Regions from separate parts of the Homo sapiens genome. Here region 1 is linked to region 2. Evidence: fine-mapped expression QTL. A gene starts in region 2. The other region holds a variant in brackets. All regions are shown on one strand. Distances are from middle to middle.

What was found.
Region 1: its variant is fine-mapped to the expression of PRPF38A in lymphoblastoid cells (GTEx, PIP 0.98).

What each region holds. Positions count from the first base shown.
Region 1 is chr1:53,164,563-53,176,373 of GRCh38, reverse strand. No RefSeq gene overlaps it. Among named protein-coding and RNA genes, the nearest start is that of CPT2, 26 kb to the left of the region's middle. The variant T/G (reference allele first, on the strand shown) is at 7,824.
Region 2 is chr1:52,401,414-52,416,547 of GRCh38, reverse strand. It overlaps PRPF38A (pre-mRNA processing factor 38A), which reads right to left and starts at 11,946. Exons shown (of 10, transcript NM_032864.4): 1 at 11,669-11,946; 2 at 10,709-10,868; 3 at 7,858-7,979; 4 at 5,348-5,433; 5 at 3,924-4,034; 6 at 2,557-2,669; 7 at 1,901-1,927; 8 at 1,689-1,786; 9 at 1,162-1,210. The coding sequence starts at 11,798. ORC1 (origin recognition complex subunit 1) reads left to right here and starts at 12,125. Exons shown (of 17, transcript NM_004153.4): 1 at 12,125-12,302; 2 at 14,320-14,419; 3 at 15,059-15,134. The coding sequence starts at 14,325. It also overlaps the pseudogene LOC124904850. RefSeq lists an enhancer at 11,427-12,626.

The DNA.
Region 1 (11,811 bases), 760 kb before region 2:
TTTCCTGGTGAAGAGGCACAAGGTAGCAAAGGGAAGAACATGCATAAAATAAAGACGTTCCCTCCCTCTGCAAAGAGCCTTCACCAGGGCTTCTTTCCTCCCCTCTGTGGCCAGGACGTGGTTGCACTTAATCCGTTTCCAAGCCTCTCTTTCCCTTAGATTCTGAGCTCTTTGAAACCTGGGACTGCGTGTTCCGCCCTTAGCACAGGGTTGTACACAGTCAGCCCTTATTAGAGATTTTTGGTGAATGAAATACAAGAGGTATAAAGGAGCATGGGCTCTACAAGTAGTGGGGAAGGGTTTGCATGCCTGATGCATAGAGCAAATGCTGGGAACGAGAGGGATGAATGCTGAGAGTTAGACCGTCAACTGTCCCATGCTATTGGCTGGGGATTTCCATGGATGGCTCGGATTAAGGAGTAGCAGTAAGAGAGAGAGTAAATGTGGGAAGTGGGAAGGGTTGGCCACTACACAGATTGATGGGGACGGAAGCTGGAGGAAGAAGTCAAGGATAACACTTTGCTCCATCCTGAACTGGCTTCCTGCTCTTGAATAATTCGCCATGTCTGCCAAGAGGGCACAAACATTCATTCGAATGAGGCCCCACACATTCTGCTGGAATTGATTGGCTCCCATCTTGGCAGGGGAACAGAGCCAACAGGATGTGTACCTATACCTAGAAAAAGAAAGGTCTATTTTAAGGAATTGGCTCATGTGATTGTGGAGGTGCAAGTCCAAAGTCTGCAGGACAGGCCAGCAGCTGGAGACCCAGGGAAGAGCTGCAGATCGAGCCCACAGTCAGCCTGCTGGCATCATTCTTCTTGCTTAGGGGAGGTCAGTCTTTGTTCTTCAGCTTATTAGATGACACTCGCCCACGTCATGGAAGGCAATCTGGTTGACTCAGAATCCACCCATTTAAATGTTAATGTCTTCCAAAAAACACTTTGACAGAAACATCCAGAAAAATGTTAGAATGTTTAACCAAAGATCTAGGCACCATGGCCCAGCCAAGCTGACATATAAAATTAACCATCACAGACAGCACTCTAAGAATTCAGCCATGTCCCTCACACGGACAGTCAGTTCATCTGCAGCTGATCTGCAAGCGTGCTTTCTCTCTCTCTCTCTCTGATATCTCTATACCCCAACAGAGTCACTATAGGGAAAATTCCTGATGTGGGGGTGGTTACTCCCATGCTGTTCTTGTGATAGTGAGTGATTTCTCACGAGATCTAATGGTTTTATAAGGGGCTTTCCCCCCTTGCTTGGCACTTCTTCCTGCCACCCTGTGAAGAAGGTGCCTGCTTCTCCTTTGCCTTCTGCCATGATTGTTAAGTTTCCTGAGGCCTTCCCAGCAATGCAGAACTGAGTCAATTAAAGCTTTTTCCTGGCTGGGCGCTGTGGCTCACGCCTGTAATCCCAGCACTTTGGGAGGCTGAGGCAGGCCGATCACGCGAGAACAGGAATTCAAGACCAGCCTGACCAACATGGTGAAACCCTGTCACTACTAAAAATACAAAAATTAGCCGGGCATGGTGGCATGCACCTGTAATCCCAGCTACTCAGGAGGCTTAGGCAGGAGAATTGCTTGAACCTGGGAGGTGGAGCCGAGATCGTGCCACTGCACTCCAGCCTGGGGGATAGAGCGAGACTCTGCCTCCAAAAAAAAAAAAAAAAAAAAAAAACCCCACCTTTTTCCTTTATAAATTACCAGTCTCAGGTATTTCTTCATAGCAGTGTGAAAACGGACTAACACACCATCTCCAGCCCTGTTTTGCCCACATGAGCCATGCCACCCCATTTATCGTTCTCCTCACATTCCCAGAGTCAGACACATCTGTAAGGCAGCAACTCACGAAAACTCCTGAGAGTATGCAGGGAGCAAATCCTCTCCACTCCTGGGTCCCCTCAAGTTCCAGGGGAACATTAACCTGTGTCTCCTTGGCCAGGGATGGAAGGGCAGGGGCAGGGAGCCGACGGTATTGTTCAAATGGTGTGTTTTGAAGAGAATTAAATACAGAGATTATTTATGAAGGTGTGGGCAGGGTGCGGGGAAACCCATGTCCAGTGCAGTATCCCTGAGCTAGCTAGTAACGTAGGTGCTGTTACCACCCGCAGCCGCCATGACCAGAGCCATAGGACCTTGGCAGAAGGAAGCCCCGGAATAAATACCCACCCTCACTTTCCTCCTGCCTTCTTTGTCCTGTTACTGTTCCCCATGATCTGAATCCAACCAGAGGCACTGGTCAGAGAGGCCCATTGATGTGTTTATAGCTCAACTTCCCGGGGCAGAGAGCCGAGTGGAGAGGGTGAAGAGGGAATGTGGAAGGCGATCCTGAAGCTATCTAGCCAGGCAGGGTAGAGGTCCCTTCACACTCACATCTGGAGCTCTTACTCCTTCTCCAAAACCTCCCACCTGTCTCCAGCTCAGAGCCGAGCATGATGACAGGGGACGGGGAACTTGTTCTGCCTTTTCATTTCCTCCTTGAAATATCTTCTTTCTTATACCTGTAGGCCTAGACCAGGCAGCTTGTCCTTCAGAGCTGAGTATTTGCCATCTGTTTCAAGCTGGCCCATTTCTGGCATCTACCCCTGGGGCAAACGGTGGCCTCCAGGTCAGCCATCTCAAGTGTGTGTGTGTGTGTGTGTGTGTGTGCGCGCGCGCGCGTGCGCGTGCGTGCGTGCTTGTAGGTGAGTGTGTGTTAGAGTGTGTGTGAGTGTGTGTGAGTGATAGTGTGTGTGAGTGTGTGTATATGAGAGAGGAGGAGAGGAGAGGAGAGGGGAAGGGAGGGGAGGGGAGGAGAGGGGAGAGGACAGGGAGGGGAGGGGAGAGGAAGCAGGAGGAGAGGAGAGGGAGGGGAGAGGAGGAGAGGGAGGGGAGAGGAGGAGAGGGAGGGGAGAGGAGGAGAGGGAGGGGAGAGGAGGAGAGGGAGGGGAGGAGAGGAGAGGGAGGGGAGGGGAGAGGGAGGGGAGGGGAGGAGAGGGGAGAGGAGAGGGAGGGGAGGGGAGAGGAAGCAGGGGGAGAGGAGAGGGAGCATTTTGGTAAACTTCTAAAATAACGAATCCCTGAAAATGGTGAATTTTTACTGAATATTTCCTGTGTACCAAGCACAGCACAGCTCCTTTAGTCCTCCCCTATCTCCTTCAGTGATGTTGTGTTTTTCCTAATTTACAGATGAGGAAACTGAGACTTCAAGGGTCCAAATATCTTAGTGTTCTTGAGCCAAAGGTGCTGAGTGAAGGAGACATGGTCCCTGCCCTTGAGGAGCTGGCAGTCTTTCTGGGGAGACAGATGGTGAGCAGGTGAGCAGATGCACGGTGTGGTAAGTGCTGTCACGGATGGGTGAGACACCATTCGGTGCACAGAGGAGGAAGTGATTTTATACCAGGGGTGTGTCCATGAGGACGTCAGAAAAGAGGGGACATTTGTGTTTAGGCTTAAAGTCTTATTTGGGTCACTAGATGGACCTAGAGGGCACTCCAGGCAATGGGAAGAGCGTGCAAAGACACAGACAAAAAAGGGCATGGTGTTCTGGGAAAATGGTGAGAATTCCATTGTGGATGGAGCAAGGGAAAGAGGGAGGAGGGGAGGAAAAGCCGAGGGATGGAGGCAAGGAGAACAGTCTTGGCTTTTATGTTAAAATAAATTCTCATGGCAGAATTCTTGCTGATGTGCAAATTCAAAATTTTATTCAAAACATAGGCTCTGTAGTGATCAACCAAAGACCCACACTGGAAGTGTTAAGTAAATTTCATCTGTTCAGTCTGTCCAAACACAGCTATAAAAAGAGCTAAACAGGGCTTGAAAAGGATGTTTTGAATACTTAAAAAAAAAAAGTGGAGTCAGAAGAGCATTTTGCATTTTCTAGGAAGATTGACTACTCTGTGTTTTAGGAGCAGTGCCTGCCACTATGCATGGTTAACTGAGCTGGAGGACCCTGTGCTTCCCGCACCTCACAGGCGGAGCAGCCTCTCAGGAACCCCTTCCGAGGCTTCCACCTGTGGGCATGCTGCTTTCTCATCACTGCTGCTGCTGACCTTTCTCCCCAGCAACTACCAAAAGCCCTTTTATCCACAGTCTAAACAACCAAGAGAATCAAGGAACCCCACAGAAGGAGGATGAGAGCAGTCTGTACTCAATTTTATGATCAGTAAATAATAAGAAGACAAGCTCCTGCTGGGCACTTAGTTCAACAGCAGCTCCCAGGTTGCATGTAGCCCCACCACCAGCATTGTTCGACTTCTGCATCTTTTGTGTGGCTCGCCCTGTTCTGGGCACTCAAGACATTTCACAACAATATCTGCAAAATTATAACATGTCATCTGCATTTTTAAGATGCATTATGGACCAGGCGTGGTGCTGGGAGTGCTTTGGGAGGCTGAGGTGGGAGGATCACTTGAGGCCAGGCGATCCAGTCAAGCCCAGGCAACAGAAGAAGACCCCATCTCTACAAATTTTTTTTTAAATCAGCTGGGTGTGGTGGCACAAGCCTGCAGTCCCAGCTATTTGGGAGGCTGAGGAAAGATGATCACTTGAGTCCAGGAGTTGGAGGCCACAGTGAGCTAGGATCATGCCACTACACTATAGCATGGATGACAGAGAGAAACTCCTTATTTAAAACAAACAAACTGACAAAACAAAAGGGAAGCATGATGGTGTGCCAGGTAGGGGTCTATTTGAAGGCATTTAGACTGGATTCAGCCAGTCAAGAAGTTCAATTAACCAGAAAATTTCATTTTCCAAAGAATCAGAATAACCAGGAGTTCATTGGAATCTCCCTGAAGGTCCTCCTGGATTTATTCCCACAGACTTACCCTACGAGCTTGGAGCTGCAGCAACATTCTTCACTTCCAGGAGGCGCAGGGACCCCTGGCATCATGGTGCTCTCTGGTCTTCAGGGATGGGGATGTGTGCGGCAGCTCAGGCTTAGGCCTCCTCAGATGCACAGGCTGCTTGTAACAAGGGCCCAGCAATGGGTGCCGGAGGCCGAAACCTGTGCACATTCTTTTGTCTGAAAGTCATAATCAGCCAGGCATGCAAAGATGTTGTTCGTAGGGGATTTATTCCAGCCGTGTATATTAGAGCAAAAAATCAGAAACAAACTAAATTTCCAACCCTCAAGGAATAGTCAACTACATTGTGGAACAGTCAGGTAATGTACTATAAAGCAGCCACTAAAAAAGGCATTGGGAAAATTTAATTATTCATCTGAAAAGATGTTCATAATAGATTAAGTTAAAAAGCAGTATATACAATAGCTAGAACATAGACACAATCCAAATGTCCATTGACAGGTGAATGGGTAAGCAAAATGTGATCTATACATACAGTGGAATATTATTCAGACTTAAAAAGGAAGGAAATTCTTTTGTTTTTTTAGACAAGGTCTTATTCTGTCACCCAGGATAGAGTGCAGTGGTGTGATCTTGGCTCACTGCAGCCTCAGCCTCCCAGGCTCAAGTTATTCTCCCACCTCAGTCTCCTAAATAGCTGAGACCACAAGTGTGCCACCACACCCAGCTAATTTTTGTGGGCTTTGTAGAGATGGGGTTTCAGCATGTTGCCCAGGCTGGTCTCAAACTCTTGGACTCAAGGGATCCTCCTACCTTGGCCTTCCGAAGTGGTAGAATTAACAGAAGTGAACCACCATGCCTGGACTCTTTTTTTTTTTTTTTTTAATTAAGAGACAGGTTCTCACTCTGTCACCCAAGCTGGGGTGCAGTGGCGCGATCATAATTCTCTGCAGCCTAAAAGGAAGGAAATCCTGATATATGCTACCGCATGGGCGAACGTTGAGGACATTGTGCTAAGTGAAATATGTCAGCCACATAAGGACAAATATTTTATGATTCTACTTATATGAAGTACGTAGAGTGGTGGCATTCAGAGAAAGTAGAATGATGGTTGCCAGGGGCTGGGAGGAGGGAAAATGGGGAGTTATTGTTTAATAGATGCAGAGTTTCCATTGGAGAATATTTTTAAAGTTCTGGGCCGGGCACGGTGGCTCACACCTGTAATCCCAGCACTTTGGGAGGCTGAGGTAGGTGGATCACTTGAGGTCAGGAGTTCGAAACCAGCCTGGCCAACATGGTGAAACCCCATCTCTACTAAAAATACAAAAATTAACCAGCCGTGGTGGTGCACACCTGTAATCCCAGCTGCTTGGGAGGCTGAGGCAGGACAATCGCTTGAACCAGGGAGGTGGAGGTTGCAGTGGGCCAAGATTGTGCCATTGCACTCCAGCCTGGGCAACAAAGTGAGACTTTGTCTCAAAAGAAAATACAAAAATAAAAAAATAAAAATAAAGTTCTGGAGATGGATGATGGTGATCGTTGCATAACAATTTGAATGCACTCAGTGCCACAGAACTGCATGCTTAAAAATGGATAAAATTGTAAATTGTAAATTTTATGAGAAAGTATTTTTTTTTAATTTCACAATGTATTTTTTTTCTTTGAGACGAAGTCTCGCTCTCTTGCCCAGGCTGGAGTGCAATGAATGGCATGATCTCGGCTCACTGCAACCTCCGCCTCCCGGGTTCAAGTGATTCTCCTGCCTTAGCCTCCTGAGTAGCTGGAATTACAGGCATGCACCACAACACCCCACTAATTTTTGTATTTTTTAGTAGAGACGGGGTTTCACCATGTTGGCCAGGCTGGTTTCGAACTCCTGACCTCAGGTGATTCAACTGCTGCGGCCCCCCAAACTGCTGGGATTACAGGTGTGAGCCACCACGCCTGGCCCACAATGAATTTTTTAAATTGGCAATGATTGTATATATTTACAGGGTACAATGGAATTTTTTGATATATGTATACATTACAGAATAATTAAATCAACCTAATTAAAATATCCATCATGTCACATATTTGCATGTGTGTAGTGTGATTTGATTTTTTATTTTGATTTTTATTAGTGATGGGTACACTAGAATCCCAATCCCCACCATATTGAGCTTTGCCAAAATATTGAACATTGCACACAATAGGGAATTTGTCAGCCCACCCCCACTTTGTAGTTCCTGCTGTCTGTTTTCTCCACCTGTATGTCCATGTGTACCCATTGTTATCTCCCATGTATAACTGAGAACATGGAATATTTGACTTTCTGCTTGTCAGTTAGGTGTAGGGAAAAGAAAGAGAGATCAGACTGTTACTGTGTCTATGTAGAAAGGAAAGACATAAGAGACTCCATTTTGAAAAAGACCTGTATTTTAAACAATTGCTTTGCTGAGATGTTAATTTGTAGCTTTGCCCCAGCCACTTTGCCCCAACCTGGAGCTCACAAAAACACGTGTTGTATGAAATCAAGGTTTAAGGGATCTAGGGCTGTGCAGGATGTGCCTTGTTAACAAAATGTTTACAAGCAATATGCTTGGTAAAAGTCATCGCCGTTCTCTAGTCTCAATAAACCAGGGGAACAGTGCACTGCGGAAAGCCGCAGGGACCTCTGCCCTTGAAAGTGGGGTATTGTCCAAGGTTTCTCCCCATGTGATAGTCTGAAATATGGCCTCATGGGATGAGAAAGACCTGACTGTCCCCCAGCCCGACACCCGTAAAGGGTCTGTGCTGAGATGAATTAATAAAAGAGGAAAGCCTCTTGCAGTTGAGATAGAGGAAGGCCACTGTCTCCTGCCTGCCCCTGGGAACTGAATGTCTTGGTATAAAACCCGATTGTACATTTGTTCAATTCTGACATGAGAGAAAAACCGCCCTATGGTGGGAGGCGAGACATGTTTGCAGCAATGCTGCCTTGTTATTCTTTACTCCACTGAGATGTTTGGGTGGAGAGAAACATAAATCTGGCCTACGTGCACGTCCAA[T/G]CATAGTACCTTCCCTTGAACTTAATGATGACATAGATTCTATTGCTCACGTGTTTGTTGCTGACTTTCTCCTTATTATCACCCTGCCCTCCTACTACATTCCTTTTTACTGAAATAATGAAGATAATAATCAATAAAAACTGAGGGAACTCAGAGACCGGTGCCGGTGCAGGTCCTTGGTATGCTGAGCGCCGGTCCCTTGGGCCCACTGTTGTTTCTCTGTACTTTGTCTCTGTGTCTTCTTTCTTTTCTAAGTCTCTTATCCCACCTGACTAGAAATACCCACAGGTGTGGAGGGGCAGGCCACCCCTTCACTTAGGATAATGGCCTCCAGTTCCATCCATGTTGCTACAAAGGACATGATTTCATTCTTTTCATGCTGCATAGTATTCCACGGTGTATGTGTACTATATTTTCTTTATCCAGTCAACCACTGGTAGACACTTGGGTTGGTTCCATGATTTTGCTAATTTTCTGTAATGTATATTTTACCACAACAGAAAAGAAAAAAACCAATATGTATGTTTCTGCAAAACAAAAAATTTAGACATAGAAAAATATTTGGGAATATAAACTAAAAAGTTATTTCTCAGGGTTGGATTACGGGGAATTTTCTTTTTTTTTTTCTGAGATGGAGTTTTGTTCTTGTTGCCCAGGCTGGAGTGCAATGGTGCAATCTCAGCTCACCACAACCTCCACCTCCCGGGTTCAAGTGATTCTCCTGCCTCAGCCTCCTGAGTAGCTGGGATTACAGGCATGCACCACCACGCCCAGCTAATTTTTTGTATTTTTAGTAGAAATGGGGTTTTGCTGTGTTGGCCAGCCTGGTCTCAAATTCCTGACCTCAGGCAGTCCACCTGCCTTTGCCTTCCACAGTGCTGGGATTACAGGTGTGAGCCACCGCACCTGGCCTATGGGGTATTTACATTTTTCTTAGTTTTTGACAATGAACATGTATTACTTGCAGCATTCACTTTCTTCATTGAAGGAGATAGGGCAAGATAGGCACAAACTGACTCGGCCTGTCCCCTAATGGGCAGTGGTTGGAAGGAAGAGTGCAGCACCACCTGCATGTGTCAAAACAATCTTCATTACTGGGCAGATACTGATTATCCCTGATGGGACCCCACCTGCCTGGACAGAGAGCCCACACCCATTCTTCCACCTTCACTCATGTGGACACTCAGACAACAGCAAGTCCATGGAGAACCACAGAAGCTGTGAAGTTTCCAGATCTCTCATGAGTCTCACTACTGCCTTGCGCTTTTTCTATCCATTCTCTCCCTTATTCACCTGGACAACATTAGTTCATCGAAACTCAGCCCAGCTGACACCTCCCCCGGGAAGACTTCCCTTACCCTCCGAGCTATGTCTAGAGTCCCGAGCTGTCTCTGTGCAGTACATATCCCACAGACTGAGCTCCTGGAGGCAGGGCCAGAGCTCAGCAGCTGTGCAGCCTCGGTGCCCAGCCCAACGCCCAGCCCAGGCAGGAGCTCGGGTTGGCTGAACTGAACAGAAACTATCTTGTTCCTGAGATGTAGCTAGTTTCTTGATAGAGGTCATCCAGTGCTAGCAGCTCAGTTTCCAACTCCATTTTGAGAATTATGGCCAATAATTTGTTTTCCTAAAGCAAAAAGGAGGTGAATCATAAATCCGAGTGGTTTTTGTTTGGCGGACTTTTTCTTTCTTTCTTTTTTTGTCCTTTTTGAGACAGGGTCTTGCTCTGTCACCCAGGCCAGAGTGCAGTGGTACAATCACAGCTCACTGCAGCCTTGACTTCCCTTATTCAATGTTTAGCCTTTAATGCAAATATCACAAGTGGGTCATTGATTATTTTTAAGGGGAAAGGTAACTTTTTGGCAAGCGACTCATGTCCACACACACCCCATATTTGAATTTCATTTGTCAGTGATTCTTACCTGGACTTGAGCTGCTCAAGAGCTGGGAGCCCACCCACTGCATGCCACGTAGTAGGTCTTCGCCCGTGTGCCAATCATTAGAGACACTGGAGCCCTGAAAGCTGCCGATGTTGCCCTGTTGCCATTGGCTTTCACTCTTTCTTGTGCTCTTGCCACATGCCAGGCATTGTTGCAGGTGCTGAGGAGGCAGCAGGGAACAAATCCTACAAAACACGAGCCCACCCCTCCCACCAAACAACACTTACAAACTCTTACCAGAAGCTGGGCCCCATAGACTCACCCATTTTAAAGAAGAGAAAGAGAGAAAGGAAGGAAAGCCTGCACTGCAGGACTCTGGAACAAGTGTGGATTAGGACCCAGAAGTCTTCAGTTTATTTTGAGCTTTCTGGCTGTGTGACTTTGGGAAATCTACTTGACCTGTCACTACCTCAATTTCCTTATTCATAAAATAGGAATAATGACAATATCTGATAAGATTGAGAGAATTAAATTAAACATGTAAAGTGCTTAGAATAATGCCTGGCACATGGTAAACAGCCAGTACAAATTACTATTTATTGCGGTTGCTGTTATTACTAACCCAGAGTAGGTCCTGTAACATCTCAGCTTTAGTTTCTTCTCCTGTAAAGGGAACAATACTAACACCTCCCTCATAGGTAAAAGTCTAATGAGATGAAGCAGGTGAAAGCACTTTATCAACTGGGGTTATAAACTAGGTACTCACAGCCTCCAGCAGCAAGCCACTCAGGGAATCCAGGGAGATAAGGGGTAGGAGGCAGAAGGTGTCCAGGAGTCATGGGGTTTGGGATCAGGAACAAGCAGCTGACTCTCAGCTCCAGCAGTTGTGGTCATGCAGATGTTTCCAATGAAGCCACAAATCCAGATTTTTATGTAAGATCCCTAGTTTTTAAATGTTGGCAATTAAGCCAAGTTTTTGTAAGTCACTTTGAGTGCCAATCAATACAAAGGTGCCGCCAATTCGTGACCTGTTATAAACTTTTACAACTATTACTTAATAAACCAAGGGGGTAAACTACGAACGTAGCTGATGCAATAACTCAACTGAAAAGCCGAAAAATAACTAACATTTCATTCTCCCAGTGGCCCTAAGAGACAGGCATTAGCATCCCCATTTTACAGATGAGGAAACTGACCAGAGATGGAAGGTCACAGAATTGCTGAATGGCCAATGGGGCTGGATGCTGTGACTCTGTGACTCCCTAACCCAGTCTTTTTTCACTCTGACTATGCAGCATGATTGCAGCACAGTGTCCTGAGCCCTCAGGCCCCACAACTTCACTGCAGAACTAAAATGCAGGGGAGCCAGCATCCAGACTCATTGTCCTGCCCTGCTCCACAGCGGGAAAAACCTACATGAAGACCATTAACCGCAACACCAATTTATTTTATTTTTTTGAGACAAGGTCTTGCTCTGTCACCCAGGTTGGAGTGCAGTGGCACAATTACAACTCACCACAGGCTTGACCTCCTGGGCTCAAGAGATCCTCCTGCCTCAGCCTTCCAGGAAGCTGGGACTACAGATGTGCACCACCATGCCCAGCTAATTTTTTGATTTTTTGTAGGGATGGGGTCTCACTGTGTTACCTAGGCTGGTCTTAAACTTCTGAGCTCAAGCAATCCCCCTACCTCAACCTTGCAAAGTGCTGGGATTACAAGCATCAGCCACCATGTCTGCTGTGGGTTTTTGTGTTCCATCATTCAACATCTGAATTGCTCCTTGCCTAAAAGAGCTGCTAGGCCATTAAGGTGTCTTTTCAGCAAGGCTTCCAGATCTGTAGGCAACTGAAAGAGAAAAGAGAGGGAAAGGATGTTAGGGTCTCCAGATCAAAAAGAGCCTCAGAACCAGCCCCCAAAGCAATGTACAAAAATGCAGCAGGGTCTATATACTAATATACTCACTTTATATGCACAATCCAAACCATAAGTCTCTACATAGCTGTGGTTTAGACCAGGGGCTCCCATCACCCTCAACTCAATGCGGGGCCCCACCCCCAAACAATTCACTCAGAACTGGGGATTTGATGGGGATATGGGTATGTTTTAAAAGC
Region 2 (15,134 bases):
CACCTGAGGTCAGGAATTCGAGACCAGCCTGGCCAACATGGTGAAACCCTGTCTCTACTAAAAGTACAAAAATTAGCCGAGCATGGCGGCGGGCACCTGTAATCCCAGCTACTCAGGAGGCTGGGACAGGAGAATTGCTTGAACCCGGGAGGTGGAGGTTGCTGTGAGCCGAGATTGGGCCATTGCACTCCAGCCTCAATGACAGAGTGAGACTCCATCTCAAAAAAAAAAAAGGAGTCCTGAGAAAGACCTTGGTATGCTGACATTGATGGGGATGGAGCTGACACTCAATATTCATTAAACTGCTTGGTATTTTTTTGACTCAGAGCAACACTCTTGAGTCAGGCATTACTATCCAAATTTTACCATTGAGGAAATGACCTCTTAGAGGTTAAGAGTACACCAAACAGGCCCGGCGCGGTGGCTCATGCCTGTAATCCCAGCACTTTGGGAGACCGAGGTGGGCGGATCACAAGGTCAGATTGAGACCATCCTGGCTAAAATGGTGAAACCCCGTCTCTACTAAAAATATAAAAAATTAGCCAAGGGTGGTGGCGGGCACCTGTATTCCCAGCTACTCGAGAAGCTGAGGCAGGAGAATGGCGTGAGCCCAGGAGGTGGAGCTTGCAGTGAGCCGAGATTGCGCCACTGCACTCCAGCCTGGGAGACAGAGCGAGACTCCGTCTCAAAAAAAAAAAAAAAAAAAAAAAAAAAAGAGTGCACCCAACGGTATATGGCACATGGGGGTTTCTAATGAAATCTTATCAAATGAAAGTGACTTGTCCAAGGTCACTCAACTGTTAAGTTTTAAAACTTGGGACTAAACCCCATGTTTTCTGAGACCAAAGCTCATCCATTGTCCAAAGCTGCAATCCTGTAAAGCAAAACAGGTATCAGCTTGAACCCGGGAGGCAGAGGCTGCAGTGAGCCAGGTTCACGCCACTGCACTCCAGCTTGGGAGACAAGCACGAAACTCAGTTCTCAAAAAAGAGAAAAAAGAAAAAGTTATCTAACCCCAGTAATTCTCAAAGCAATAGACCAATTTTGTCTTGTAATGCAGGAGAATTCCTAACATCCCCCAACAAAACAAGAAAATTTCAGGTCCAGTTAGTTGTAATTTGGACTATTTCTGTAAAGTTAAAATAGAGGTCAATTCATTACCTTTCGGGAGACTTTGAGTGGCTCCTGTGTCTGTGACTACGGTGATGACCTGGGGAAGAAAAGGCCATTGCATAAGATCCTACCCTTCTACTCTTATTAAACTGTCATTCTCACCTCCCCTAATACCTGCCATTGGCTTAATATTCTTTTGGCCTATGCAGGGGACACCTCTTAGTGGAAGCAACTCTGAATTAGTGGAGGAAGAGGGAGCAAAGAAAGTAGTAATGAAACCAGTTCAAATACATATACATTCAAGGGCTTTATGACTAATTTCACAAACATCATATTGGGTTTTCACTATTATGTTAGATCTTATTCCTCCAATTTTAGATGAAAAAACTAAAGCAAACCTTATCAGCAAAGCTTATAAGTGACAGTCAAGCTGTGAACCTTAATTTTCAAATTCTATGTCCATTTGCTTTTCTGTTAGGCAGTACAGTCAGGCACTCCTGTACTGCAGGAGGCTAACTACTCCTTTTACATTTCTTTGTTAAGACAACCTGTGGCAAAAGGCCCACAAGCTTTACCTGGGGACTTGGAACGGGATCTGTGCCGCCGATCTCGGGACCTGCTGCGGTGACGTCTTGGACTCTTGCTCCGATGCCTTTCTCGGCGAGGGGAGGGGCTGTAGAAAAGACTGGTCAGACTACCAGATCTGGTTAGCAATATACATATAACACCAATACCACCACCCCCTCCCCAAAGCCCTATCCTTCATCACAAATGACTGAAGGCCTACCTTCTCCTTTTGGGAGATCGACTCCGCCTATAAAGAGGAGAGGAAGAAGAAAGCCTAGGTTGGCGCACTGGATGTGGTAGATTGCAAAAACGGCCCCAATCTTATCCTTCACGCTTCTCTGTATCACCCACCTCTGTATCCATGTCTTTTGTCACGTAACTCTAGCACCCTCCCATTCTAACTTTAGGACTGGTGACATGACTCGCTTTGGCTAATGAGATATTTGCAAATGTGATAAAAGCAGATACTGGAAAAACATTTGCATGACCGGGTTTGTTTGCTCTTGAGTTCTGCCACTACCATGAGAATATGCCCAACTTAGCCTGCTAGAGGATGACACAGAGAAGAGAAATTTCCCCCGTCATCCAAGCTAAGGCAATTCCATACCAGCCAGTAGACAGCCGACAACAGAACAGGTACTTTAAAAACTGCCTATCCAAGCTCTGCTTAAATCATTGACTGCAGACTTGTGAAAGGAACAAATGGTTATTGTTGTCTGCCAATGAGGTTTTATAGGTGGTTGTTTTGCAGCAACAGATAACTAATATATTGGGCAAACATTCTCCATAGACGTGCATTTTTCCTTCTCTAAAATCCAAACTTCTAGGCTACAGTGCTCAAAATCTTCTGGGAAAAGGCCAATGACTAGGCTTTACCTTCTGGGAGACCGGCTCCTACTCCTCCTGTAGCGCAGTGTGGGAGAGCGACGGGGCTTGTCCAAGTCTCGGTAGCTTCTCCGGCGGTGATCAGGTGATGGCACTCTTTCCAACTGGAAACAAGATGATTGGGTCATTGAAAGGCACAGGCTTATAAAGAGCCATCTAGGAACACTAATTATACTTCACGCCCCATCTTGTCCCAAAGTCCATCTCCATGTGACTTTAAAGCACAGTAACCTGACTACAAAGAGGGAAGCACTTACCCTATTAACTAACAAAACTTATTATGAGCTATATAAGACAGCCAAAATGACTCATAGGAGAGGGAACAGAAACAGACCTGTGTGTGTGTATGTGTGTATGTTTAGTTTATCTGCAGCCTGGGCAACATGGTGAAATCCCATCTCTACAAAAAAAATACACAAATTAGCCAGGTATGCTGGCACGTGCCTGTAGTTCCAGCTACTTGGGAGGCTGAGATGGGAAGACTGCTTGAGCCTGGGAGGCCGAGAATGCAGTGAGCCACTGCACCTCAGCCTGGGCAACAGAGCAAGACCCTATCTCAAAAAAAAAAAAAGTTTGCTTCCTGGAACAACTGGGCAGCTTGGTTGTTTTCAACTTTTCAGCACCGTAACTAGTACTGAAAGAACATGACTATGCGGTTGACATTTTCCCCCTCCTAAACAAGGTTTATTCCTTAGGATAGGTGCAATTATGAAAGTGTTCTTTCTTTCCAAGTATTTAATAGCTGCCACCATTTATTAGGCAATTATAATGTGCCAATACTCTGCTAAGGGCTTTAAGTTTATAATCTTATTTAATACTTTTAACAGTCTTGGGGAAAAAAGTATCATTAACCTCACTTTACATAGGAGAAAACTAAATTTAAGTAATTTGCGTAAGATTATACTACTAGTATATGGCAGAGCTGAGGTGCTTTTAATAAGGAAATATTGTTTTTGGCTAGAGTTAGAAAAAAAATTTTTTTTGAGACGGAGTCTCACTTTTGCCCAAGCTGGAGTGCAGTGTTGCGATCTTGGCTCACTGCAACCTCTGCCTCCCGGGTTCAAGCAATTCTGCTGCCTCAGCCTCCTGGGTAGCTAGGATTACAGGCACCCACCACAACGCTGGCTAATTTTTGTATTTTTAGTAGAGACGAGGTTTCACCACCACGTTGGCCAGGCTGGTCTTGAACTCCTGACCGCTGGTCATCCACTCGCCTTGGCCTCCCAAAGTGCTATGATTACAGGCTTGAGCGACCACGCCCGGCCAATAGAGTTAAAAATTAAAGTCTAAAAACAAAAAACCATTCCCATTTTCTATTACTCCCTCCCCTACAACCATAAAAGTCTCAGGTGCCAGACCTTCTCATCCTCCTCTTCTTCCTCTTCACTGGACTCCACATCATCCATGTCCTCTTCCAGAGCACTAACTCGAGGCTCCAGTTGCTCAGCTTCCTCTAATACATAGCGTTTCTACAGAGAAAATGATGAGAGTTAGGGGTTGTTGCCATTTCCCCTATTTCTTGAAACCTCAACACTGGGCTTCAGGGTTCCAAGGAGCAACAGCTGAGGCAATTTCATTTCAAAGACAGTTCAAGATTTTCCTAACAAGTTTAATAGACCTGAAATCTATAAAGTTCTCCTATAAACATAAATACAAACCTGAAGAGAACATCTTCATTTTCTATTGACTCTATTCCCTGTACCTTATACTCTAAAGTCATGGGAATATCAATCAGTATAGGTACAGCCTAGAACCAAAAGTAAGGGCTTCACACACAGAGAAAATCCAAGGGCTAATAAGTTCATGGCTGGTAGTTCCACTAGAAGAGGCCTAGCCCTAGAGTAGTACCAAATCTCCAGTAGACCCAGGATCTCGGGAGCTGTTGATATTCATGCATTTTGAACTGGTTCCATTTTAATCTGGGATATGGCTTAGCAATGTTTATTTGAGTGGCTAAGGATCAGAGAGGCAAAGCTGATTTCAAAAATGCCAAATGGCTAAATGTAGTGGCATGTACCCGTGGTCCCAGCTCCTTGGGAGACTGAGGTAGGAAGATCCCTTGAGCCCAGGAGTTTAAGAACAGCCTGGGCAACACAGCAAGACATTGTCTTGCTATAAGAATTGGGCCCTCAAAGTAGGTTTTCAAATTTATAATCTCATTCTTTCCACTACATGCCCTACAGTGCCAACATGGAACAGGAGAGCTGTATCACACTCATTTCCTGAAAAGATGCCTCATGGATAATCGTTTATCACTAGGAAAGGGAAGCAGGATGGTGAAGGCAAGTTTAAGGAATTAATGGCTCAGTCTCCCACTCCTGGCCCTATTTTTATCTGTTTTATGTCCTGGCTTTTTACATGAAGATTAGTTTAAAAAAAACGTTCATGAAGTTAAAAACTCCCTACCTACTCTAGCTACAATACCCTTGATGTAACATCCTGAATAAATTTCTTTTTTCATGATAGACAGGTAATGTGCTGACTTTGTAACAAGGTTTGAGGGAGGCACAACTCACACATGCACCTGAACTACAAAAGGATGGAGAAAAACAAAGTTTCCTTGTTTTAAACCATTCACTTTTAAAGCCCTACCCTTCAAATATTTTATCTATTTTCCTCTCACTCCCAATCCACTATCTTGGGACTCCCAGACAGGAAGACTATTCATTAAGAGGACCCATAAGATCCACAGGCTTCAGTGTTTAAGCTGTGTGTATGTGTTTGTCTGTCTGCCCGTCTAGGAAGAGAAGGGTGACTCTGGTAACAGACTTTTATTTCTTACCTGTAGTCGGGGCAGAATGATATCACAGACTCTCTCACTGTGCAATAGTTCATCAATAAACTCATCAACATGCATCAATTCAAACTCTGCAAGAAAAAGTCATTAGAGCAAACAACCTGGAAATAAAAGATTTAGATGCCAAAAAGTAAAAGAAGTGTTAAGACTTCATATCAGGACATCTATGTGCTAGGCCTCTTTAGAAGAGATTAAGGGATGAATGAAGATGTCCCAATTAGCAGGAGACAAACACAAAAACAAGCACAAACAGTCCTGAATTATGTAGGGATGATCTTGAAGAGATCATATAACTTAAATATAATTTCTCATCTGAACCTTCAATGTTTCTGAATTTAGAACATGTATCTTATATGGCACATGGAGTGATAGCTTTTGAGAACTGGCTAGGAGTGGTGGCTCACGCCTGTAATCCCAGCACTTTGGGAGGCCAAGGCAGGCAGATCACTTGAGGTTAGGAGTTCAAGACAGGCCTGGCCAACATGGCGAAACCCCATCTCTACTAAAAACACAAAAATTAGCTGGGCATGGTGGTGGGCACATGTAATCCCAGCTACTCAAGAGGCTGAGGCAGGAGAATTATTTGAACCTGGGAGGCAGAGGTTGCAGTGACCTGAGACCACACCACTGCACTCCAGCCTGGGCAACAGAGTGAGACTCCATCTCAAAAAAAAAAAAATTATATGTCTATATATATGTGTGTGTGTGTGTATATATATATATACATCTATATATATATAAAAGTATCATTAACCTCACTTTACATAGGAGAAAACTAAATTTAAGTAATTTGCGTAAGATTATACTACTAGTATATGGCAGAGCTGAGGTGTTTTTAATAAGGAAATATTGTTTTTGGCTAGAGTTAGAAAAAAAATTTTTTTTTGAGACGGAGTCTCACTTTTGCCCAGGCTGGAGTGCAGTGGTGCAATCTTGGCTCACTGCAACCTCCGCCTCCCGGGTTCAAGCAATTCTGCTGCCTCAGCCTCCTGGGTAGCTGGGATTACAGGCAATTTATATTATATATAAATTATGTTATATATAAATTATGTTATATATAAATTATATATGATTATGTATATTTATATATTTGTATGTAAATATAATTATAAAATGTATATATATGTGTGTGTATATACACATATACAAATACATATATATACATACATACATATACATATATAGCTTTTGAGAACTTCCATGGTAAACATTACCTTACTTCTGGGGTTCTCAACCATGGGCAATTTTGCACATGCCCATCCCCCTACTTAGAAGGAGGTGTTACTTCCATCTAGTGGGTAGAGGCTAGAGATACTGCTACTCATTCTATGATGCACAAGCCAATCCTCACACAAAAGTTATATGACCCAAAATGTCAATAGGTTCAGAAATTCTTAGTTTTACGTAATAAAATAATAAATAAATAACTCCATCATGGCCATGACCATGTCCATCTTGTTCACCATGGTATTTACACCACATAGCACAGTATGTGACATGTCAATGGCACTTAATATGTATTTATTCAATGAATGAATCAATAAGTTTAAAGTATAATACCAAATTCTATTTTTTTAAGATGGAGTCTTGCTCTGTCGCCCAGGCTGGAATACAGCGGCGTGATCTCGGCTCACTACAATCTCCGCCTCCTGGTTCAAGGGATTCTCCTGCCTCAGCCTCCTGAGTAGCTGGGATTACAGGTGTGCACCTCCACACCCTGCTAATTACTGTAGTTTTAGTAGATATAGGGTTTCACCATACTGACGAGGCTGGTCTCAAACTCCTGACCTCAAGTGATCTGCCCATGTTGGCCTCCTAAAGTGCTGGGATTAGAGGTGTGAGACACCGTGCTTGGCCCCAAATTCTTAACCTTCTACTGTTTAATGATACATGTAGGGGGAAAGGTAAATGTTCCTATCTTCTGTTATGACACCAAGTGAGAAAAGGTTTTGACTGCATTACCTGGAATCCCTCCTTAGCACATTAAGTAATCTCCTTGTAGAAGGTATGGAGCTGCCTCTCTTGGATATACTTATTTTTCAGTGGGATTCCTGTATAAAAATGAGTAGTCTTATATGCTGCAGTGTGAATTACAGTGTTAGAGGAGAGGCCAGTAGAAAGAACTGTGAAGATGTAAAATATGGAAAACTAATTTTGTCTGAGAGGGCTGGGGAAGGTTTTTATGGAGAAGCCATTCTGCAGCTAGATCTTTTGGGATGGAGCACATGTAAAGGGGGCATATGATGCAAGGCAGGGATTAACATAAGATGCACTTGGAAAGGGAGACAGACAGAGGCAGGCTGGGTAAGGCCAACACGAAGCTAGTAGTCAGACTGAAAACTCCCATGAGGGACAAGGGAAAACCTGCATAGAGACAGTAACAATGTAGATGAAAAGGAGCATTCACACTGTCTATGACAATGCAAAGGTAGAAGTACTGGTAAAATAAAAACTGGCTTAAAAATGACAATCAGGAGACTTAGCACCATACTTACCCCCATTTCGGTTCTGGCTCTTGATTTTTCGATAGTCATTGTACAAAGGTTCCAAGTACTTGTAGCAATCAATTGCAGTGCCTGTCAGCCTCATGTAAAGTGCCCCCAGCATGCGGACATACCTGAGAGACAGATGACAGTGAAACAACAGGCCATCCTAGAAGTTCCTGAGTTTTACAACTAGCTGTTCTCATGACAGTAGTGGATAAACATGTTCTTCTCTTTGGCAGGTAAGAAAGCTGCAATTGTGGAGGTAGAATGCAGCAGAAGAAAGACAGCTAAAATATGGAGACCTGAGTTCAAGTTCCCATGCTACCATTTATGGCTGTGGGAACATCATACATATTGATCAACTTTCAAATATATCATCAGTAAAACTAGAATAAAACCTATTTACCTCACAGGATTACTCTAAGAATCAAAAGAAATACTGAATTTTATTTTATTTTTTAAGGCAGAGTCTTGCTCTGTTGCCCAGGCTGCAGTGCAGTGGCACGATCTTGGCTCACTGCAACCTCCGCCTCCTGGGATCAAGCAATTCTCATGCCTCAGCCTCCATGTAGCGAGGATTACAGGCGCCCGCCACCATGCCCAGCTAATTTTTGTATTTTTATTTATGTATTTATTTATTTCTTGAGACAGAATCTTGCTCTGTTGCCCAGGCTGGAGTGCAGTGGCACGATCTCAATTCACTGCAGCCTCCACCTCCTGGGTTCAAGCGATTCTCCTGCCTCAGCCTCCCAAGTAGCTGGGATTATAGGCATGTGCCAACACACCCAGCCTAATTTTTGTATTTTTAGTAGGGACCGGTTTTGCCATGTTGGCCAGGCTAGTCTCAAACTCCTGACCTCAGGTGATCTGCCTGCCTTGGCCTCCCAAAGTGCTGGGATTACAGGTGTTAGCAACCATGCCTGGCATATTTTTGTATTTTTAGTAGAGACGGGGTTTCCCCATGTTGGCCAGGCTGGTCTTGAACTCCTGACCTCAAGCAATCCACCTGCCTTGGCCTCCCAAAGTGCTGGGATTACAGGTGTGAGCCACCACACCTGGCCATATATTGAATTTTAAAACAGAAAGAAGATATATTTAATAACAATACAAGAACAAGTACACATAAACATGACTGCTGGTTTTGGAAAAAAGTAAGTCATCTGGGTTCAAATTCTGACTCCGTAATTTACTAAGTCTGTGACACTACTGGTCAAATCATGTGTTTTCTCAATCCTTGTAAAACGGAGATAATGCTACCTAATTTATGGCTTGGTATATAAACAAGAAATGCATTGAAAGTGCTAAGTATAGCACAGAGCACACAGTAAGTGCCTAACAAAAGTTAGGTATTTTCTAGCTGTTAATGCTTTATTAGAGTCGTTCCAGCCAGGGGCGGTGGCTCACGCCTCTAATCCCAGCACTTTGGGAGGCGAGGCAGGTGGGTCACCGGGTCAGGAGATCGGGACCATCCTGGCTAACGCGGTGAAATGCCGTCTCTAGTAAAAATACAAAAAATTAGCCGGGTGTAGTGGTGGGCGCCTGTAGTCCCAGCTACTTGGGAGGCTGAGGCAGGAGAATGGCATGAACCCAGGAGGCCGAGCTTGCAGTGAGCCGAGACTGCGCCACTGCACTCCAGCCTGGGCAACAGAGCGAGACTCTGTCTCAAACAAAAAAAAGAGTTGTTCCTCTTCCCTTTTTCCTATATCTAACTACTTAAATTTCCTCTTGGGTAACTAGGAGGCTTTTGAAAGTCATAGTTTCTTTGTACGAGAAGCAGAATACTGTAGCAAAGAATATGAACTCTGAAGCCAGATTTGCCACTTACTAGCTGTTTGAACTTGGGCAAAATTAATTAATCTCTGTGCCTCAGTTTCCTCTCCTGTAGAATAGGGATTAAAAGTTTAGAAGGTTGTTGTGAAAGTGAAATGAATTATTATATGCAAAGCCCTTACAGCATGGCACATAAGAAGCTATTATGTCTGTCTCCTATACTTGTTTGTGATTTCCTCGAGAATCGGTAATACGGTAATAAGCTGACATTTTCTAGGTGTTTACCATGCAGCAAGTGCTGTGTTCAGAGATCTGCATGCATTACGTTCTTTCACTCTTATATTATAGTCACCATTTTACAGATAAGCAAAGTTTAGAAAATTAAGTAACCTCTCCAATGTCATAGTTAATGGGCAACAGAATCTGGATGTGAACCCAGATCTTACACCTCTTAACCACCACCTTTTGTTGTTTGATTTTCACCCCTGAGCGTCCAGTGCCTACCAACATATCAGGCACTCACTTTTGCTTAATATGTATTTAGTGAATCTGTGAAATCCTTTTTCAGGGAAAAATTACCAAAACTGAGAAAGTAAAGTAGAAGATTAATACAATCAGAACAGATAAAATACAAACTTGGCAGGGTGTGGTGGCTCATGCCTGTAATCCCAGCACTCTGGGAGGCCCGGGGGGGGAGGGGATTACCTGAAGTCTGGAGTTCGAGACCAGCCTGGCCAACATGGTGAAACCCCATCTCTACTAAAAATACAAAAATTAGCCAGGCGTGATGGCACATGCCTGTAATCCCAGCTACTCGGGAGGCTGAGACAGGAGAATCACTTGAACCCAGGAAATGGGGGTTGCAGTGGGCCGAGATCGCACCACTGCACTCCAGCCTGGGCAACACAGAGAGACTCTGTTTCCAAAACAAAAAACAAACAAAAAATACAAACTCAAGGGCTCAAAAGCAAAAATCTGGAGTGGAACTCTCTAGAAATGAGATACATTGTGTACACCCCTCTTAACCAAAGCCCAATTCTAAACCGCCAAAATTAAACCTCTTATATTAGCTAGTGAACATTGCACTCACTTGAAATCTTCATTTTTGATAAACTCTACAATGATATCCTTCTCGGGTTGAATTTGAAGCATCTTCAAGGTTAAACACAGAAAGGGTGTTGGTTTTATGTTGCCACCATAGACGCCACCCACAAACCTTAACTCCATGGCTTTATCGACTACAAGTTCAGCTAAAAAACAAAAACAATACAGTAACATATTAGGGCTAAGCTCTTCCTAGTTGGAGTGGAGTTAGTTCAAGCTTTGGTTCTCCTAAATATACATCAACAGTGTAATATTAGGAGAACGAATGTGTATTAATAACAGTAACGACAACAGCTAATATACATTGAGAATGGATAATAAAATAGGTACCCTGCTAAGCTTTTCATATTATCTCACTTAACCTTTTTTAACAAGTCATGAAGAAAGTTCTAGCAATGTTCTTATTTCCAGGTAAGGAAAATGAGGGCTAAGAAAGGTAAAGTGACTTGCTCAAGGTCCACAGATTGTCACAGGACATGGATTTAAAGCCACAATTCAAATCGGAAGATTACCTGGAAGACTTCTCTGAAGCACTGATATTTATAAATACTGGAACCGGCCCAGATCTAAGAATAGTAAGATCATGAATTTGGTTTCAGGCATATTAACGTTAGGTCCTTAAAGACCTTCAACAGATTGTGTCAAAGTGTTATATCCGGATCCCTGAGCTTAACACTGTTGCAACCCAGCCTGCTATCATTAAATACGGAATAACTCACAACACCCAACTGAGACAGCCTTCAGAATATGACCTTACCAGATTCATCTGTGCCTCTAATACTCAACACAAGACGAGGCACTTAGCAGGCACTCAAAATTTTTCTGAATGATCGACATACTCCGTTCCAGTACCACCCCCAGAGGCCAGTCGCTAGTCCTACCCGCGCTCGGTCAGGAGAAATGGGCCACAAGGGGGCTGAGAGGCGCTCCGCGCGCTTCCACTTACCTGTAAGTCCAAAGCACTCCTCTTTCCAGTACTTGGACTCATAGATTCGCGTTCGAATGATCTTCTCCACCAGATATTGAGGGTTGGTGCCATGGATGCTGTGCGCATCCTTCACTGTACGGTTAGCCATTTTAGAATGCCTTCAATTCTATTTCCGTCGGATCCTTTAATGCCTCACATCCAGGTTCAGAAAAAGCACCTAGAGGAATGGAGAAAGGTGGAAGAAGTTTCACTAAACAGCTTAGGCGACCATCTTGAAGCCGGAAACACCGTAGTGTAAAGGGCTTCCGCTCCCCGCGTCGCCTATCGAATCAATGATGGCGGCTGCATGTTAGCGGATGTACGTCATGCGCCCCTCTTAGGTGTACGGAGTGGGCGGGGCGAGCTAGTTGGTGTCGCAACGAAGGGACGGTCTGGGGGCGGGGCCACGCCGATTGGCGCGAAGTTTTCTTTTCTCCTTCCACCTTCTTTTCATTTCTAGTGAGACACACGCTTTGGTCCTGGCTTTCGGCCCGTAGTTGTAGAAGGAGCCCTGCTGGTGCAGGTTAGAGGTGCCGCATCCCCCGGAGCTCTCGAAGTGGAGGCGGTAGGAAACGGAGGGCTTGCGGCTAGCCGGAGGAAGCTTTGGAGCCGGGTGAGTGTGGCGTCCAGCGGGCTGCGAGGGACTCGGGGGAGGGCGCATCGGAACCTCTGAAACTGAGGACGTTCTCTGTAGACTCAGTCATTGATTCTTTTAGCTGACATGTACCAAGCGCCTGTTCAGTGCCAGGCACTGTTCTGAACTGTTAAGAGCGTTCCTCTGTTCCACACTCCGATTCCTAAAAGGCTTCCCGCGCTGCAGGGAACTGAGTTTGCAGGGGGGAAGGCGGAAGCCAACAGCCTAGAAGCAGGAGCATTCCTGCCCTCCGCACCCTGATGCTCAGTGATGACTTTCCCTCCATCTGCATTTGTAAAGCACTCTACTTGTTTCGTTCTTTGAGCTATAGTGTAGGAACCACTACAGGGAAGGCGGAGCAGAGGTTATTACCCCATTTTACGGACGTAAATTGCGCCCAGGGAGGGACGTGTCTTAGGTCGCTTTTCGTGACTAAGCAGTCTGGGCTCCTACCCAGATCTTTTTTTCAGATGAGCTCCTAACTGCTGGGCTGTCTGTCATTCACCTTCTTTTCAGAAGAGAAGTCTGGTGGCCCCCTTCCTACTTCTCTTTTCTAACCCCGGAATTGAAGAGTCTTCTGCTGTGACAGTTGGAAAAGGCATTCTTATCCTGATCTATTTGTGAAACTGCAATGATTATATACGATTCTAGTTGTCTGTAACACATGAATAATAGTACCCTCGTCTCTGCTGTGTTAGGTGGGCTGGAAATGCCAAAGGAGTTTCCAATATGACAGAATGGTTTAAGTCCCTTTGCAACAGTTTTTAACTTTAATGGAGGGCAATATGTGGACTTTAGGAGGTTTGTGAATCTGCCGAAATTGAATGCAAAATTTTGCTTGAATTATGTTAGTTCCATAGTATTCATCAAATGATACTTAATAAATAAAACCACTGTACCTTACAAATAAATGCAAGGGATTAAGGTAGTGGGAAAGTGGATTTACCATTTTGCATTTTTTCACTTAATCTTCCATTATCCTAAAATAGTGCCTGGCACACGATGGGTACTTAATAAATATTGGTTGAATAAACGGAAGATTCTATTTTCTCCATTTTGTGGGTAAGCAAATTGAGGCCCAATCCACAATGTTCAGTCAGTGGCTGGGAAGCCTGATTTATTGTAATAAGTACACCAAAAGCAAGCTCTCAGTTACATATTAACATTATCCAGTTTCACACAGTGTGTTGTAAGGTGAAGTAGTTAAGAGCACAGTAATTGCAGTCTGGCTTTTCCGGGTTTGAGTTAAGGCTGTGCCATCCTGTATAAGATAGGATAAGTTATCACCTTGAAGTGATAATAACATCTACTTTTCTTTTTTTTATTTTGAGACAGAGTTCTGCTCTGTCACCCAGACTAGAGTGCAGTGTTGCGATCTCGGCTCACTGCAGCCTCCACCTCCCGGGTTCAAGTGATTTGCCTGCCACCATGCCCACCTGATTTTTGTATTTTTAGTAGAGACGGGGTTTCACCATGTTGGCCAGGCTGGTCCCGAACTCCTGACCTCAGGTGATCCACCCACCTCAGCCTCTCAAAATGCTGGGATTACAGGCGTGAGCCACTGCGCCCAGCCTTTGTATTTCTGTTTTATCCTTGTGTGCATTTTATAAGCGTCATGAAGACATTTACAACCCCTGTATCACTGTCTTTTAATTTCACTTTGTTAGATGTTTTACACCTATTGTTCTGCCTTATTCCTAGTATTTCTAAATGTTACAGTTTCATTTCTTAGGAATTGACCTTTCTGTTTTCCTGGATGGAAAGAGATACGGCATAGTACAAGATGGACACAGATGATACTAAATTGCCTGTGTGTAATCTTCGTAGACCATGACTTCAAATAAAATGTTTTCTTAGTCTAAAATGTATGGGAGTGTAGCAGGGGCAGAAAATAAGTCTGATCTCATTTGAAGGGAGGGACTGACTATGTCTTAGAATCCATCAGATAAATACCAAATATTTATCATGGTAACTCAGAGTTTGGACTCTTCCACAGAAGCCATGGCACACTACCCCACAAGGCTGAAGACCAGAAAAACTTATTCATGGGTTGGCAGGCCCTTGTTGGATCGAAAACTGCACTACCAAACCTATAGGTGAGTGATGGGGTCCTTTGGTTGTCCTGGAAATACAGCTTCTCAAGCTAAACAGTCAACTTGTATCTAGCCTGTTCTAATTACTACAGATTGACCATGAATGAACAGGAGATTAGAACTGATTGTAAGGAGGGTTTTGTTTGATGCAAGAAGATGGTGGGATAAATATAGCAGTTAGTGATGGAGCAAAATTATGGCAGGCTCATAAAATTTTGTATGTAGGATAATGTCATGTCTATTTAAGGTGAGTTCTATATAACTTTTGATGAAAACGAGATGATAGATGTTTTTACTATGTCTTTCCCAGCCCTGGAGATCTCTGACAATTTGACATTGTTACTGGGCAGCTTGACAGCCTTGGGAAACATTTGTTGTGGGAAGCATTTGTTGTTCTTTGTCAATAACTGAGAGGAATTAGGGTTCCTAATAAGACCTTTGGATTCATTACTCAGCTAAAACAATTCATTCAACCCATTTTGCCTATTCTTAAATATAACTGGGCGAATTGGTTTCCCAGTAGGAGAGTTGGTCAGCAGAAAGAAATCAGGATTGGAGAGCCCTCTCCTTTGTGCCCAGGGGATCTGAAGAGCTTGACCCACTTTAAGTTATTTCCTAATGTGCTTCTCTGTTACTTCCTAGAGAAATGTGTGTGAAAACAGAAGGTTGTTCCACCGAGATTCACATCCAGATTGGACAGTTTGTGTTGATTGAAGGG